Homo sapiens: one gene and its partner. The protein of the gene in region 1 interacts with the protein of each later gene in a pairwise test. Each region holds a gene or a part of one and is shown in the gene's direction. Other genes may lie near its edges. The genes, in order: TRHR and TMEFF2.

What was found.
Region 2: the proteins of TRHR (region 1) and TMEFF2 interact in binary tests that used the Homo sapiens proteins (3 or more experiments, as listed by UniProt).

Annotation. Positions count from the first base shown.
Region 1 is NC_000008.11:109,089,097-109,096,776, forward strand, and holds part of TRHR (thyrotropin-releasing hormone receptor), read left to right. Parts: intron 1-7,680. UniProt on the Homo sapiens protein: Receptor for thyrotropin-releasing hormone (TRH). Upon ligand binding, this G-protein-coupled receptor triggers activation of the phosphatidylinositol (IP3)-calcium-protein kinase C (PKC) pathway.
Region 2 is NC_000002.12:192,191,592-192,200,124, reverse strand, and holds the start of TMEFF2 (tomoregulin-2 isoform 1 precursor), read left to right. Parts: upstream 1-5,191; 5' UTR 5,192-5,600; coding exon 5,601-5,772; intron 5,773-8,135; coding exon 8,136-8,245; intron 8,246-8,533. UniProt on the Homo sapiens protein: May be a survival factor for hippocampal and mesencephalic neurons. The shedded form up-regulates cancer cell proliferation, probably by promoting ERK1/2 phosphorylation.

The DNA of each region.
Region 1 (7,680 bases):
TGCAGTGTTTATGAAATGATATAGGAATAAAATACTTTTATATCATTTACACATTTATCTATATACAATTGTTCTAGGTTACTGACAAACTTAGCTTGAAGTTTCTTTTCCTTCTTTGTTAAACATAATGAACAGATGATAAATATTTATTCTCATAGCTGAAAAAAGAAATCTAAACTTGAAATCAACATGCTGATACTTTTAAATGGGTTGAATTTTCTCATATTTCTTGAAAGGAATATAGTTCTGTGTACATAGCTAGAAACTGAGTGTACTTTGTAAAAAAGTATACATATAATCATTCACACTGTTACTTCATAAACTCCAGCTGATATATGCATCGTAACTGGACACAGCAAAATAAACTGCTAAAAAATTTAAGTGTTTTAGATATGCATGAAATGAATAATGAGCCATAACTTAAAGGAAACATATACTGCATTTTAAATGGTGCTGTAATACTTGGTTTATATAATACTTATTATTAAAGATAACTAGATGACAGAAGAAAGACCTAAACAACTATTGTCAGCTCTTAGATTTCTTTTGCCTTGGATCTAGTAGTGATACCTAATATAAGGCTTATTCAGCCATTTATTACCCAAAACTTGATTAATGGAAATTTAGAGAGATCTATTGACTATCTTCCAAGACAAACATTGACAAATATAATAAGAAAGCAAAGAATATGTACATCTCAATTAGACACCAAACATGGGTTAATGTCTGCAGCAAGGAAGATCAGGGAGTAAATTCATTCATTAGACTCCAATTTGCATTCCTGCTATACATTTTTAAAACTTGTTTGTCTTGTCTAATGTCCTTTCTTTCCATTACAGTCATTAGTACCTATCAGCATTAATATGCTTTAATTTGCTAATTATGTTACATGTTCACAGTCTTATTTCAAAGCTGTTACCGATAAGCTGTCCTTACAGAGGCTGTATGATAGAAGAAAAAGCCAAAGACTTGGCTCCAAACAACCTTGGGCTTAAATGCCAGGATTCCATTCAAACTCTATAAACTTGGATAAGCAGAACTCTGTGAGCCTTAGTTTTGTCATCTGTTAAATGAGATAAATAGCAATATCCAAGATCAGTGTAAGGATCCATGAAATACCTCATGAAAAATGCCTAAATTGGAGTGGTGATTAACAACTGAGTATTAACTGGCTCCTTCTCAATTTTTAAAAATATTTTGGCAACTGTGAGGGAACTACAGGTTTTTCCTTAAAAATACACATTCACTGCTTTAACAAAGATTACTTGTTGAACAAATGTGTATATGACGTGGTAACTTCTTTAAGGAGTTTTTTTAAATAATTAGAGCATTTGGAAATACATTCTGAGCATTTGGGGTTGTCACATTAACACCACTGTCAGTTAGCCTCCAAGAATAAGGAATGAAGTTCCCTTGTTGCAAATACCAATAACACCCTAATTGAGAAACATGGAGTGACACATAAGCCAATAGGAGTGTATTTAAGTAGTGTGTCTTGTAATTCAACCCTGATTATAGATGGGATGTGAGTTCAGAGAAAAGAAGGAAAATTACTGGGCTACAGGGATCAGAGAAGTCTTTATGGAAGAGGTGGCATTTGAGATGGCTCTGGAAGGATGAAGATAATTTGAAAAGTAAAAGTCAAGAAGGACAGTATTCCATGCATAAAGGACAAGACATAGTGGCTGGGATGAGAATGGCATGGGTTTGGAGAGGGGCCAAGAAGGGGCACATAGAGTGGGACTTATGTGATGGAGCGACTTAGTTGTCTGAAATGAATGATGTATTTGTGGGAGTGGTAAAAAGTAAGACTGGATTGATGTGTGAAAGTGAAAGAAGAGAAAGAGACAGAGAGACAGAGAAGGCTGTGGAGGATCCAGACAATCAGGCAAAGAAAGGAATTTGCACTTAATGCAGAGGCAACAAAGAATGTGAGTGATGAGCAGGGAGCAGCAGTGATGAAATGGTGTTCAGGGATGAGAAATCTGACAGCCGTCGGGGAGGCAGATTTGAAGAGAGAGAGATTGGTGGAAGAAAGACCACTTTGGAAGTTGTTAGTAGTGATACAGGCATGAGGCAGTAAGATCCTCTATCAGGAGAATTTAAAGTAAAGAGTATACCAGAAAGATGTTTCAAAGAAAGAAAGGGTGTGATGTGAACATATTAGACATAAAGGATGAAGAAAGGACAATTCAATATGGCCCCAGGATTCTGAGTCTGGAAGAATGTGGTGCCCCGATCAGTGGGAATGAGAACAGTGAAGGGGAGCTAGTTTTGTACAAAATTAGTGACCTGCTTTTTTCTTCTTCCAAAATAGTTATTTTCTTAAACCTTTGAAAGGTTCAAACCTCCACCTTCTATAGCCAAAGGACTTTAATTTTAATATTTTCTCTGCATTTTTTTCTTTTAGGAAAGTTTAACTTACAGTTTAATAAATACTCATCTGGGTCAGGTCTTTCTAATCAAGTTCTTAAATTCAAATGTGCATAGCCTAAAAGAGAAACATTTAAAAAGGAAGTAAAAGAGCATTTACATGTAAGGGACAAATGTGAGTTTCTTCCTTATTTGTTTTTAACTTTCATTCTCTATGCAGAAAATCCAGGCCAAAATCTTTGTTTTCTTTTATTCAGAGATTCAATTATATTTTAGGAAAACATCTAAATGTTGGGTAAATTCCGTAAGATAAATTACCCAAACTTATGGCTTGGAATTGTGTAAACTAAACGGATTATCTGACTAAATACATTGCTTTTATAGTTTGTTATTTTAATATAAAGGAGACATTGTTTAAATTATCATATTTGTCTCATTTCAGCTCTATCTACACAATGCCTCAAGAGTCCCTCAGTTCAGTCAATTCAGGGGTTCAACATTATGTAGATACAATATCTCTATCATTGACTGTGTATTTCTATGTAATTGATTGGATTTTTGGTATTTTGAAAGCACAGAAACACCTGAACATCTTAGTAAAATGTAATATCAATAAATACATTCAATTCAAATATGTACTTTCTACAGGATGCAGAAATATGCAGAATATTTTATAGATTTATAAAACAGGCTACCAGTTTTATTATCAATGGAGTTGCTTCAATAATTTTTTTCTTAATTCTTACACAATAACAAGTAGAGAAACCATGTAACATAGTCTTAATAGAAGCTCTAAGAGTAATGGCAGAATTTTTACTATGGAATTCACTTGACTCATCAAGCCTTAAAAATATCGGTCTTTGTTTCCATGAAACTATTAAACATCTAGAAGGAATATTGGTAGCCCAAGAAACAGAAACAACTTTCCTTTTTATTTATTATTTATTTATTTATTTTTATTTTATTTATTTATTTATTTATTTTTGAGATAGAGTCTCCCTCTGTAGCCCAGGCTGGAATGCAGTGGCAGTATCTCAGCTCACTGCAACCTCTGCCCCCAGGATTCTAGAGATTCTTCTGCCTCAGCCCCCTGAGTAGCTGGGATTACAGGTGTGCGCCAACACACCTGGCTAATTTTTTTCTATTTTTAGTAGAGACAGGGTTTCACCATGTTGGCCAGACTGGTCTTGAACTCCTGACCTCAGGTGATACGCTAGTCTCGGCCTTCCAAAGTACTGGGATTACAGGCTTGAGCCACCGCACCCGGCACAACTTTCCTTTTTAAAGTAATGCACGCCTTTTGCTGTTATTGGTGATAATGACAATGATGCTATAAAAGCAGTCATGTGTATTATGGAAAATATAGAAAACTAGGAATAGGCAAAAGCCATCTCTTACCTCCTGACCCCACCTCTCAAAGACCAAAATCATCATCATTTTGTTATACCGCTTTTCTTATGTTTTCACTGGATCTTTTTTTTTTTTAAACACAATTATAGTCAAATGTATATGTAGTTTTGGCTTCCTGGTTTTCCACATACAATTTTGGAAATAATATTCTCAAAGAGAAAGCACAAGGCAAAGCAAAAGAAAGTGATCAGGATTAAGTTTGTTTCTCTGAGCCTCAGTTTTCTCATCAATAAAACAGGAAAAATAATGACCTCATAGTGCTATTGCTGAAGTCATATGAGATATATCAGAAAAAATTCAGATCTGCTTTCCTCCCACCTGTCCAGCCACCTACTCTTCCCTCTCTCCCATGTGTCTCAGTGATCCCCACCTCGCTGGGCACCCTCCTGACCCTCTCTTAAGCTCTCCTCAGTCATACAATGCTCATGGAAAATGAAGACACTCAGATAAAGAACTGGCTTCCATGTGTCTTCCGTCTTCTCCCCTGCCTCACTCCAACTCCTACCTCTAGTGCTATTTACTTTTTTTTTTTTTTTTTTTTTTTTGAGACAGAGTCTCACCCTGTCACCAGGCTGGAGTGCAGTGGTGCGATCTCGGCTCACTGCAACCTCCGACTCCCGTGTTCAAGCAATTCTCCTGCCTCAGCCTCCCGAGTAGCTGGGATTACAGGCATGCACCACCATGGCCAGCTAATTTTTGTTTTTTTAGGAGAGACGGGGTTTCACCACGTTGGCCAGGATAGTCTCGATCTCCTGACCTCACGATCCGCCAGCCTTGGCCTCCCAAAGTGCTGGGATTACAGGCATGAGCCACCATGCCCGGCCTATTTACTTTTTAAAGAATACATGTTTTGGGGTATGAATGAATGTTTAATTAAATTTGGGGAAGATATTGAACAATAATGACCTACTGCAAAATTTTACTTAGTGTTGACCCAGCTCTACCTTTAGAACTTTTGCTTTCCCTCCAACTCATTTAAAAAAAAAAAAAAAAGACTAAGAAGATAGTTACCGACCAGCCTTCACCTGTCTGGAACTTGGGGTATTAGTTTGCATTTTGAAGAATTCATGAGAGGCTACGTAAAACCTGTAAGACACATAGGAAAGGAGGCACAATGTTGGAATGTCAGGCAGTAGGCCTGGCATTTGGGACCATAAAATCTCATAAATTGTAAACGTAAGCAGCTGCCAGCTCCACCTACATCTAAGAGAACCTTTACTCAACAGACTCATTCTTCTCCCCAGGTAGCTTAATCAATGGTTAAGCTCACAAGGCAAATTAATGGTATTAAACTCTTCAGCATTAGGCCTAAATTAGAGGTTTCCTGAGAGTACTGAGGCTACAGGCTCATCTTTCATTTTTTTTTTTTCATTTTTCAAAATTTTTTTAGAGATGGAGGCCTTGCTCTGTCATGCAGGCTGGTGTGCAGTGGTGCAATCATAGCTTACTGCAACTTCTACCTCTTGAGTTCAAGAAATCATCCTGCTTCAGTCTCCCAAGTAGCTGGGACTACAGGTGCACACTGCTGCGCCCAGCTTATCTTTCATTTTTAATTGTATTATTTATTCCAATGTCTGGGTTCAACTATATACTTAATAGTGTAAATATCTCTAAGTTCAGGAGAAAAATGTGTAATTTTTGTGACAGCTCACAGCTAAGTGTGCCATTTTATTTTTATTAAAGAATAGTTTTCTATTTTCTGATTCACATCCTGTATAAGAAAAGATTTTGTACATATCCTATAAGTTGACTAATAATCTCCTAAAGTTGTGTGTTTTGTGTGCTTTTAGATAAGTACACATTGTTTATTCCTAATTTTATATTTGCATGTTGCAAATATAAAATTAGGAATAAACAATGTGTCTTTATGAATAATTGAGCAATAATTTCACTAGCAGATAAAAATAAATTATTCCATATGCCTACAAAAAAGAAAGACCTATGCTCCTATAGAATTCAATCTGATCACACAAGAAACATCATAAAATCAGCTAAACTTGAAGATGACAAACTACTTTATACTTCTTTACATAGTCTCTCATTAATTCTTCAACATGCACACAGATACTCCAAGTTCCAGACAGATGAAGTCTGATTGGTAAGTATGTTCTTAGTCTCCTTTAGGTTTTTTTTTTTAATGAGTTGGGGTAAAAAGCAAAAGTTATAATGCTCGAGCTGGGTCAGTGTTAAGCAAAATTTTGCAGTAGGTCATTCTTATTCAATATGTCCCCTAATTTAATTAAACATTCATTCACATCCAAAAAGCCCCTAGCACTATCCTAGGTATAGAGGCTACAGGGATATATAAAGACAAACTCTTTGTCTTCAAGGAGCTTAATATGGGCCATGTACACAAACAATTCTGAGCATACCACTACATTCTATGAGAGAGAACGTGGCATCAATGAGAGGAGAAAGAAAATGGGGGGAGGCTTTTGGAGTACATGGTATTTGAACTGGACCTATAAAGGTGTGATGAATGTCTACAAGCAGCTATAAAGTCAGAGAAAAAAGAAGGAAAGTTCAACAGAAAGGGGGAAGTAGATGGGAGAAGACTGGGCACGTTCAGGGAGGGAATAATCTGGTATTGTTGAAGCAAGCTATGGAAGGGAAGCGTCTAGAGAAGGAAGTCTGAGCCAGATTGTGGTCCTGCTACACCTAATTCCCGCCTCTCCTCCCCATCCTGTCCCTTGTCATTCTACATACTTTCTTCTACGCCCATGCTTACAACTTTCACCTGAGTCTTCAGTGTGTAGCTTCAGAAAAGACATCTCCTGACCCATACATACAATTGCTTTTTGGACATCACATAATTACACCAAATCCAATAGGTCTAAAGCAAAACACATTATTTTGCCTTATAAACTTCTACCTCTTTCTTTCTTTCCTGTGTTAGATTCCCAAACCAGAAACCTGGGGGTCCTTCTAAGTGCCTTTTTCTCCTGTTATCCCCCCGCCCCCCATAGCTAAGCAATAGCCACATCCTAGTGATTCCAGCTCATTATTCTCCTGCTGACCTACTTCTCCACTCGCACCGCTGCTGCCCTGGTTCACTGCCTCTCACTGCCCTATTTCACTGCACACCTTACCAGCCTCTCTGGCTCCCATGGCACTCTCCTCCAAATCATTCTGCACATTGCTCACTAAAGGATCTCTCTAACACAGAGATACTATTTGCATAATTTTTACACTCCCCTGAGCACTGGAATTTTAACTCCTTAGCGTCACAAGTAAGAGCTTGTCCCTTTCCTACATTTTCGGCTTCCTCTCACGTGGCTCTCCCAACTTACATATTACGCTCCAGCAATTCTGAATTATTTGTAGTTCTCTGAACATGCTGCGTTCCCTAAGCTGGAACACTGTTCATCTTGCAAACTCCCAATTATTTTTCAAGTCATAAATCAAATGATGCCCAGCCACCTCATCAAGCCTTCACTGAATTTCTCAGGTAGATTTATATAGCTGCATTCCTAACTACATATATGTTAGGTGTTCTTCCTATATTTCCACAGTACTTTGCATACACATGTGCTTTAGTAATTCTTGGTCCTCATAATTGGTAGCATGTCTTCCCACTCTCACTAACATCCCAAAGAGTAGGGCCTTGCATTGTGGTACCCTCAGCCCTGCATTTGGCTACAGTAGGTTCCCCAAAGTGTACACACTCAGTGGTGTGTAGCTGCCAAGGAGTACAGGCTTTGCAAGAGCAGGTGATTAGTCTCACTCCCCAACTCCGCATTCAGTGCCATCACACTGGTGGCTTAAAATTGGTCATGGTTGAATTACTTACTTTACAAAATCAGCAAATATGACAAGCCAGGGCCCCCTCTTTTTTTGTGGAGAGATGGTTGTTAAATACTTATCAGCACACTTTTGTGTTTGTGTGTATGTATATAT
Region 2 (8,533 bases), on another chromosome or scaffold:
AGCCCTAAGAAGGCTATGATTAAATTAATAGCAATGGAAACCTACTTGAATTTATAAATAAAAAGACACCAGATTGTATAGAGATGACTACTGCTTATTAAATCTAGCTCTCTTCCAATAACAGTTCTTCCTTTTTTTTTTTTTAACTACTGGCAAGCTAGTGGCAAACATTAACTAGTTCATATTGCTTTGGCTAGATGTTTTAATAGTCTTTGGTGAGATATGTGTTTTACAAGTTTTAATGGAGAAAAATGTAAGTATTTTACCTCCTGAAACTTGGCTATTTGAGTAATGAGAAAATAGTCACTTTCCCCAGGACAGTGGTTCTCAATCATGGCTATGTGTTTCTCCAGGAAAACTTTAAAAATATATATATACCAATGCTTCTGTGTCACTTCTAGGGATTCCAAGTCTTTGAATACGAACTCTGCATCAGTATTCTTTAATTATCCAGGTGATTGTGATGTGAAATCATGACTGAGCCCCACTGCTCTAAGATGAAATAAACTTTCCTCAGCACTGAAATCACAAACTTAAACTACCAAAATTAATTAAGGGCATGGGAATCAATAAGGCATAGGGAAGCTTTTACATTATAAAATTATTTCTTTAAATCACAGCTCATTGTTTATATGTTATTTGCCATTGTAGAAAAGGGTGAAAAAATAGCAAATTTAATTACTCTCAGTTTGAAAAATTATCCAGAAATGAAGATGACGACTCTGAAACATTGTCAATATCATTTGACCTATAAATAATGTTCTAATACATTTACTACACACTGATAGATACTTTTTCATATGAATATTATACATTAAAACTAAGGCAATAATGATTTAGAACATTCTATCTATATCTATGTATCTTAAGTAGGCTAGAAATTAAGATATGAGTTATTAAGTATGAGATGTTAAGGTGTGGGGTTAGAAATTATACTGTACTTCATTATCAATAATCAACATATACTTCAATATCACATACATTTAACTTTAATTTGTACATCTTTAACTATTTTTAATTATGTGTATAAATATAAGTACACACATCTTTATGTATTTATTTATTCATACCTCCATTCACTTATTTATATAGGGGATCCCCCCAAATCCACTACCATTAAACCATACATTTTTATTTTAATCTTTAGAACAAGCCCAGGAGGCAGGTATTGTTATTACTCACATTTTACAAATGAGGAAATTGTCTACAGTCACAAAGTTACTGTGTCAGACATATTAGAAGCTTAATACATATTTGGTGAACATATGCATAAAAACAGAGAGACAGACATGTACAACAGCTCATCTTTACACTGAGTAAAAGCTTTTAACCTGTCTCAGAAACCTCTCTGTGAAAACTGAGCAAAAATCGAGGTATCCTTTCATTTGTCATATAGGTATAGGTGGTACCTTACTTCTCCAACAAGGATGAATATTGAAATGTGGATCCCAAGGCCCAACTCCAGATTTTCTGAATCCCTGATAGTGGGACTTGGAATTTGTCTATTGTTTCAAAGTTTCTCAAGGAATTCATATGATCAACCAGGTTCAGAAATCACTGGATCTTATTGCCGAAGTTTGAGAATTAAAGTTTGGGCCTTACTGCGGCTCCACAGAAAGGGCAAATGAAGTATCATGGACAGAACTGATACGTTCCCAGTTAGTTTCCCCTCTCAGAAGCTAACAGGCAGCAATACAGCAGAAATTAGTGACTTATGTCTTGTGCTCTGAAGTCAGGCAGAATTTCACAGAGTCCCAGCAGTGTCACTGACGAGATTTGTTTCTTGGGGCAAGTTGCCTGATGCTTTCAAAGCCATATTCCTTTTATATAAAATGAGATAATATTCTTTGTCTCATAGGGGTGTTTTAAAGATTAAATAAAAATAACATGTTCTATCCTACATGGCACAATGCCTGACACCTAAGAAGCAAAGGATACATCTTACCTTTATTGAAGCAATCAGAAAGTATGAAATCATGAAGGAGATAAGAGTTCTGATTGGCAGTGTATCTTATTTTCCCAGGTTCATTTATTTATCTTAAACTATTCTTGTTGGAGAATAACTCCCAAGCCCCCTACTTAAGCTGTGAGTAATCTCACACTTTATAATGATGTTCTTTCCATGAGAAAAAAAAATGTTCTTAAGTTTTCTGGAGAAAATATATCTGCACTATTTCTACTGAAAAATCTAACAACTGGACTCTGCTCCTCTGCATCAATTCTAGAGTGTATATGCCACAAATAAAGTGTTCTAGCTCAAGAAGATTGAAAGTAAATATGGTATAGTATTTTAAAATAAGAATTTTGCAAATACATGGTATGATTGTGTCATATTACTAGCAATCATATGATACGCAATGCAAAGTACAGTTCATAGACTTAAATTTAATTCTAATAAGTAAACTGATTTTGCCTTGCTGGGGAAAAGTTAAAGCACTAATCCAATTGCTAATGCAGTCTTGTCTACTTCTTTGGTACCTAGTGACAAGTCTAAATAATGTATATATTTTTATTTACATATTCAGTAATACAATTCTCTGCTCAATGAGTGATGTTCTTCTGCCACTTGGTGGTGCTTGCCAGTTTCAGAATTTGTTTCTTGGTGGCACTATAACACTAAGTACAGAGTAAGTGCAACAAAATTGCAGCATTCCCATTGAAAAGGCTTTGCTTCAAACTGTTTAATAATTTAAAGGACCTCTGTGGAAGCAACCGCATTTGTTAACCAGTTACAACCAGTAATTAACTCCTTTGGAGTTTTAACTTACTTTTGGCAAAACGTCTTAGGAAGAGCATATATTATTAGAAAGTATGCCAAAAATTTACTTAGCAGAAAATTCAAAAACAGTTTTCCTCTGCTAAGAGGTTCTCTAAAATTCTACTTACATAGCCAAACTCTGAAATCCTAGCAGGTCCTGTTTCATTATCATAATTACTGCATAAACACTTTTAAGGACTTTGCCTTTAGTTTCAAGCATGACTTATTTTCATAAGCCTGATTAGTTACCACACCAGCCTTGCTATGGAAAATGACATGTTCTCATTCTCTGCTGTAGAGTTGTTAAATCTTGATCTATATTTATGTTGCCTTCTCTGCTGAAAGCCTGTAGCGAAAGAAATTTCTAATTCCTTGTTTTGCAATATTAGTTGGCAGCTCTATCTAATGGGTATTCTGTTTCCTTAAAGAATTTAGCTGCTCTGTCTAGAAGCCGATTTTCTGATGCCTCCAACGTCTGGTCTAATTGATCTGTTTTAATGGAGTCTTCGTCGGTGAGGAGCGAGATGCCACCGACTAGAATGCTGGGATCTGCTGCTTAATTGCCAGGAGTGAGAGACACTGAGATTCAGAAATCTTTGGAGGTGGGAGGGGAGAGGGACAGTCTCGGACGGAGGCGGAGATGTAAGATAAAGGGATGGATTTCACACAGGAAAAAAAAAAAGATTTCGTTGAGGCACTGAGGTGCTGCACGATCACATCTCTCAAAGGAGAAGTTAAAAAGCAAGGAAGTGGGAGGAGGTTGGAGGTTAAAGTACTTAAAAGGATTACTCGGGTACAATTTGTTTTTCTGCTGGTGTCTGCAAAGGATAGATAGTCCCGTTTTCAAAGTATATGAATGCCTCTTTTAAGTGATTGGGAATGGACACTAATTGCCTGTTAAATGTTATCAAATGCTCTCCTAAATTCAGGGGACACAGAAAGAGGGGCACAAAAGGAGAATTTAAATAGAAAAAGGGAGGATCCGGAGGCTTTTGAAAGCGGGGGGAGAAGAAGGAGGAGGGATAACAGAGAGGAATAGAGAAGGAGAGCGGAGAGAAGATAAACAAAAACAAAAACAGGAATCACTGAATAATCACACACCAAAAAGAAAGCTCTTCCCTATGGGGCATCCAAAACACTGAGACTGCAATAGTGACCCCGGTCATGGAAGAAAGATGTTCCTCTCCACCCTTGTCCCCGAAAGCTCTTGGTCCCGTTACTGGCGACTAAAATTCCATTAGGCTAAAGAGTGTGTCTAACTGCCTGAAGAATGCAGCAGACGGAAGGCGGGTCCCGCTATGCCGTTTGCCCTTCCCGCTGGAGAGAATGAAAGAAACGCGCAGAGCCAGAGACTCCTGCCGAGTTAGACCTTCTCTCGTCGCCCCAGGTCACCGGCCATCCGGCAAAGACCCGAGTAAGGAACGCAGGGTCACTGCCTGGGCCAACAAATGGAGCCCGCTCTCCCCTTCCCGGACGCCGCTGCCCGGCCGATGCTCCCGGCAACCCACCCGCGGCGTATGCAGAGGAGCCTTTCTCTTTCTCTCAGACCACTTGTCCCGACCAATCTGACCTTCCAAACACATCTGACCGCACCTCCCAGGTGGACACACTAATAGGCTACGGGCTGGAGAGGAGCGGGTGATGAGGAGAGGGATTCAAACCTGCGAACGCTTGGGCTGGGTCGGAGCTGCGGGGGGCCTGGGAGGAGAGAGGGGAGAAGAGAGAAGGAAGGAGAGCGCCTGCCGGGATGGCTGAGCTGCCTCGGCGAGCAGCCTTGGGGTTGCACGCTCTTGTGGGAGATGCTGCTGTTGCTTCCAGGTCGGCAAGAGCGGTTCTAACACCATCGCCTCTCACCCTCTTTCCTGTAAATCCCTAGAGAAACGTCCCTGGCCTCTCCGCCGCGACATTCCCAGCCTGCATCCCCCTACAGCCTAGGCGGCGCGCTCCCGCACGCTGGAGCGCCGGTCGCCAGCAGGACGCCCTCTCCCGCGCCGACTCGCCCCTCTCTGCCCTGCTGCTGCTGCTCCTCTGACACCTCCGCCCCCACCATCTCCAGCTCGGAGAGACGCCACCCAGCCGCGGCCCGCACTCGCGGCCCGGGGTCACGCGCGGAAGAGGGGCGCTAGTCCGGACCCCGCCTTCGGTAGGGGGCGTCCTGGAGCGGAGAGTGAGGCGAATGGTATATGAGTGTGCGGGTAGCCCACCCTGAAGCCCGAGCTTCTCATTTGAGCCATCCCCGCCTAGCCCCACTCGGGCCAGCGCCTGGCGAGCGAGCCCATCTGTGGCTTCCGCGGCCGCCTCCTCCTTGCATCCTTGCACCTCCTCGTCGACCCCTCCCTCCCGGGACCTGCATCCTGCTCCACCAATCAGAGCCCGACTGCCTCTTCCCACGTGACCCCGGGCGGGCTGAGGACCTGCTGCTTCCCAAACGCCAGAGGGATGCGGGCGGCAGAGCTCGAGAGGCGGCTGCCGGGCTGCGGGGCGCCTTGACTCTCCCTCCACCCTGCCTCCTCGGGCTCCACTCGTCTGCCCCTGGACTCCCGTCTCCTCCTGTCCTCCGGCTTCCCAGAGCTCCCTCCTTATGGCAGCAGCTTCCCGCGTCTCCGGCGCAGCTTCTCAGCGGACGACCCTCTCGCTCCGGGGCTGAGCCCAGTCCCTGGATGTTGCTGAAACTCTCGAGATCATGCGCGGGTTTGGCTGCTGCTTCCCCGCCGGGTGCCACTGCCACCGCCGCCGCCTCTGCTGCCGCCGTCCGCGGGATGCTCAGTAGCCCGCTGCCCGGCCCCCGCGATCCTGTGTTCCTCGGAAGCCGTTTGCTGCTGCAGAGTTGCACGAACTAGTCATGGTGCTGTGGGAGTCCCCGCGGCAGTGCAGCAGCTGGACACTTTGCGAGGGCTTTTGCTGGCTGCTGCTGCTGCCCGTCATGCTACTCATCGTAGCCCGCCCGGTGAAGCTCGCTGCTTTCCCTACCTCCTTAAGTGACTGCCAAACGCCCACCGGCTGGAATTGCTCTGGTAAGTCCAGAACCCCCGTCCCCGACCCTTTAACTCCGCAGAAGAACACGCGTATCCAGCACAGACCAGCCTACCCTAGCGCGCCTCCTCAGCCCCTCACCTCCTACTGCCCTAGACCCCTAATACCACCCACCTCTATCCAGAGAAACAAGGGGAACTGTTGCAGGCCCGGGGGTGAGGGGTGGTTCTGGGATGGGCAGAAAGTGCAGGTGTAGCAGGAAACCTTTGCATGCTTGCGCTTACATTGGAGCTGCGAGGATTTTGAGAAATATTAAACGGGATGGTTTTCTGGGTTCACTGTTTTGAAAGAGCACCAATCCTAGGGGAAACACTGAAACAGAAGCTTTGTCATCATTAAAGAAAAAAGTCTTACTAGGATGAGGAAGAAATAACTTTATGAGAAAGAATGAGCGAGAAAGCAATAAATCAAATGGTGACTGCAGGGGAATCGCTGATTCCTGGCAAAGGTGCCATGAGGTCGCACTGGTCTCCCGTTGAAGACCAGGTCACACAGATTCTAGAGGAGCTGGGTTTCAATAGAATTTCTCTCTCTCTCTCTCTCTCTCTCTCTCTCTCTCTCTCTCTCTCTCTATCTATCTATCTCTCTCTCTCTCTCATTCCCTTCTCTCCTAGGCGGCAAAAGACATTGGTTTTGCAGTCCAGATATGCCCCTCTCTTTGCTTCCCTAAGCTTCAAGGTAGTACAGGGGAGTTGAGAAAAAGAACACTTTGCGGGTCTCCCAGGCCGGAGTGGGCATGACTGAGGCTGGTCAGGCTCCATGTAGGCGAGCCGAGGGCGGAACCGACTTCAGTGGGCGCTGACTCCTCCATTTCTGGACAGGCTTCTGTGGAGTGGGTCAGGCACTCTTCTTGCTCGCTCGGGTTCCTTCAGATTCTGACGGCGAACGCTTGGCAGGCTTCGCTCTGCTGAAGCTTCCTAATTAAATAGGGCCAGAGGATGGGAGTTGCTGCACTCCTAGCTGGCATAGCATTTCGGTTTGACAGCCTGTAGTATACTGGGCAGAATTGTGGTGTAATTTCCTTGGCATTTTAAACTCCGTTAACATGCCTGGGTATTGTCCCCTAGGTGTGGTCTGTTCTAGTTTTAGCAAGTGTGTATGTAATTTTTCATCTTCTGTGAATATAATTTTGCTGTAGTTAAATCTGGCTCTGAATAAAGTGTCTTTCAAAGATGTATATAAGCTGAAGTGTATGTAACTTTAGAGAGGAGGGAATGACCAACTGTAACTCAGGGTGAAAGCCTGTATAGTTCCTAGTTATTACTGATGTAAATGCCAAAAGGAAAATTATTATGCATCATTCTAATTTATCCTTTACAAAGACAAGTTGAGATATGCAACCCTATTAGATTTGGGTCAATAGATTGTTCTCTTTTTTGGCAGTTTCTAAATTTGGCATTTTAATAAAACTCAACATGTTTCTATAACTTCTTGATTCATGCGTACATGTGTGTTGTTTTTGAAAGAATAAGTTTCACTTTGCTATTGCCTAATCACTTTTTAGATGCTTTATTATGGTAATAATTATGAGCCTGCAAAAACAATTTTTGGAAATGTTGATGGCTTTGTAGTCCAACACAGACTGGTTTGCTTCATTCCTAGCCCTTGCATTGTTTTAGGAAATAACTAACTTAAATGTGAAGTTGACATTTGCAATCAAGAAATTACATATTTACCAGATATTTTAAAGGGGACTGCATAAACTAAAGAGAATAAACTGGTTTTGCAGATAGGTTGTCAAGAACTTGGCACCCCGCTTCCACCCCTGTTAACTTAGAGGTGATCAATCTTCATTTGAGCCAAACAGACCATCACAGAAAACACTGTGCCTGTTTATCTTTATTATTGAGGCTTTGTTTCCTCTTTGTCTGGATACATTTCAAATAAGGGGTTGTTTCAGTCGTTGAAGCAAAAGAACAATTAAAGATGGGGAAATGGTAAAAGGGTATTCAGAGATCATCACTAGCTCTTTTCCAAAATGTGGAGTTTTGTGGTCATAAATATTGTCCACCTAATGAGCAAAAAATAAAAATAAAAAAAAAACAGGAAGCAAATGTTAAGCTTTCATTCACCACTGTCAGTATTAACGCAAGCTTTAAAAAATAGCACTATCAGAAAAGGATACTAAAGGAGAATTGACTAGAAAAGAATTGTGGAAAATGGAAACGAATATTGATCACTTAACTAGATTTTGAGGTTATCAGTAGACAGTGACCTTGCAGTACAGCTATAGTTGTTGGATTTAAAATTTAGGACAAGTATTTTAAAGCTTCAAAGTAGTGCTTTTTTTTGTTAAAAATCTGTAAGATGTTTTAATGACTGGAGTGTTCTCTTTGAATTTGAGGTTATGATGACAGAGAAAATGATCTCTTCCTCTGTGACACCAACACCTGTAAATTTGATGGGGAATGTTTAAGAATTGGAGACACTGTGACTTGCGTCTGTCAGTTCAAGGTAAGAAGTCTTATATTTGCATCTTCTAATTCATTAATGAGACTGCAAAGCAGGAATCTTCCTTTACAGCCTATCACTTGGAAATTTATAGCTATGCAAGCTAAGAGGGAAGCTGGCACCAAGCAAAAGTACTAGCAAGAGAGCCAACTGATGTCAAGAAGACATACGCTTTTTGGAGAAATGTATATGCCAAAGTTATAAATGCTGCTGGAGGTAGAAAGCTTCAGGTTGTGCTTTTGGGATGTCAAAGGAAAATTATGTTTCTCTGACCCTTCTAGCATCACTTTA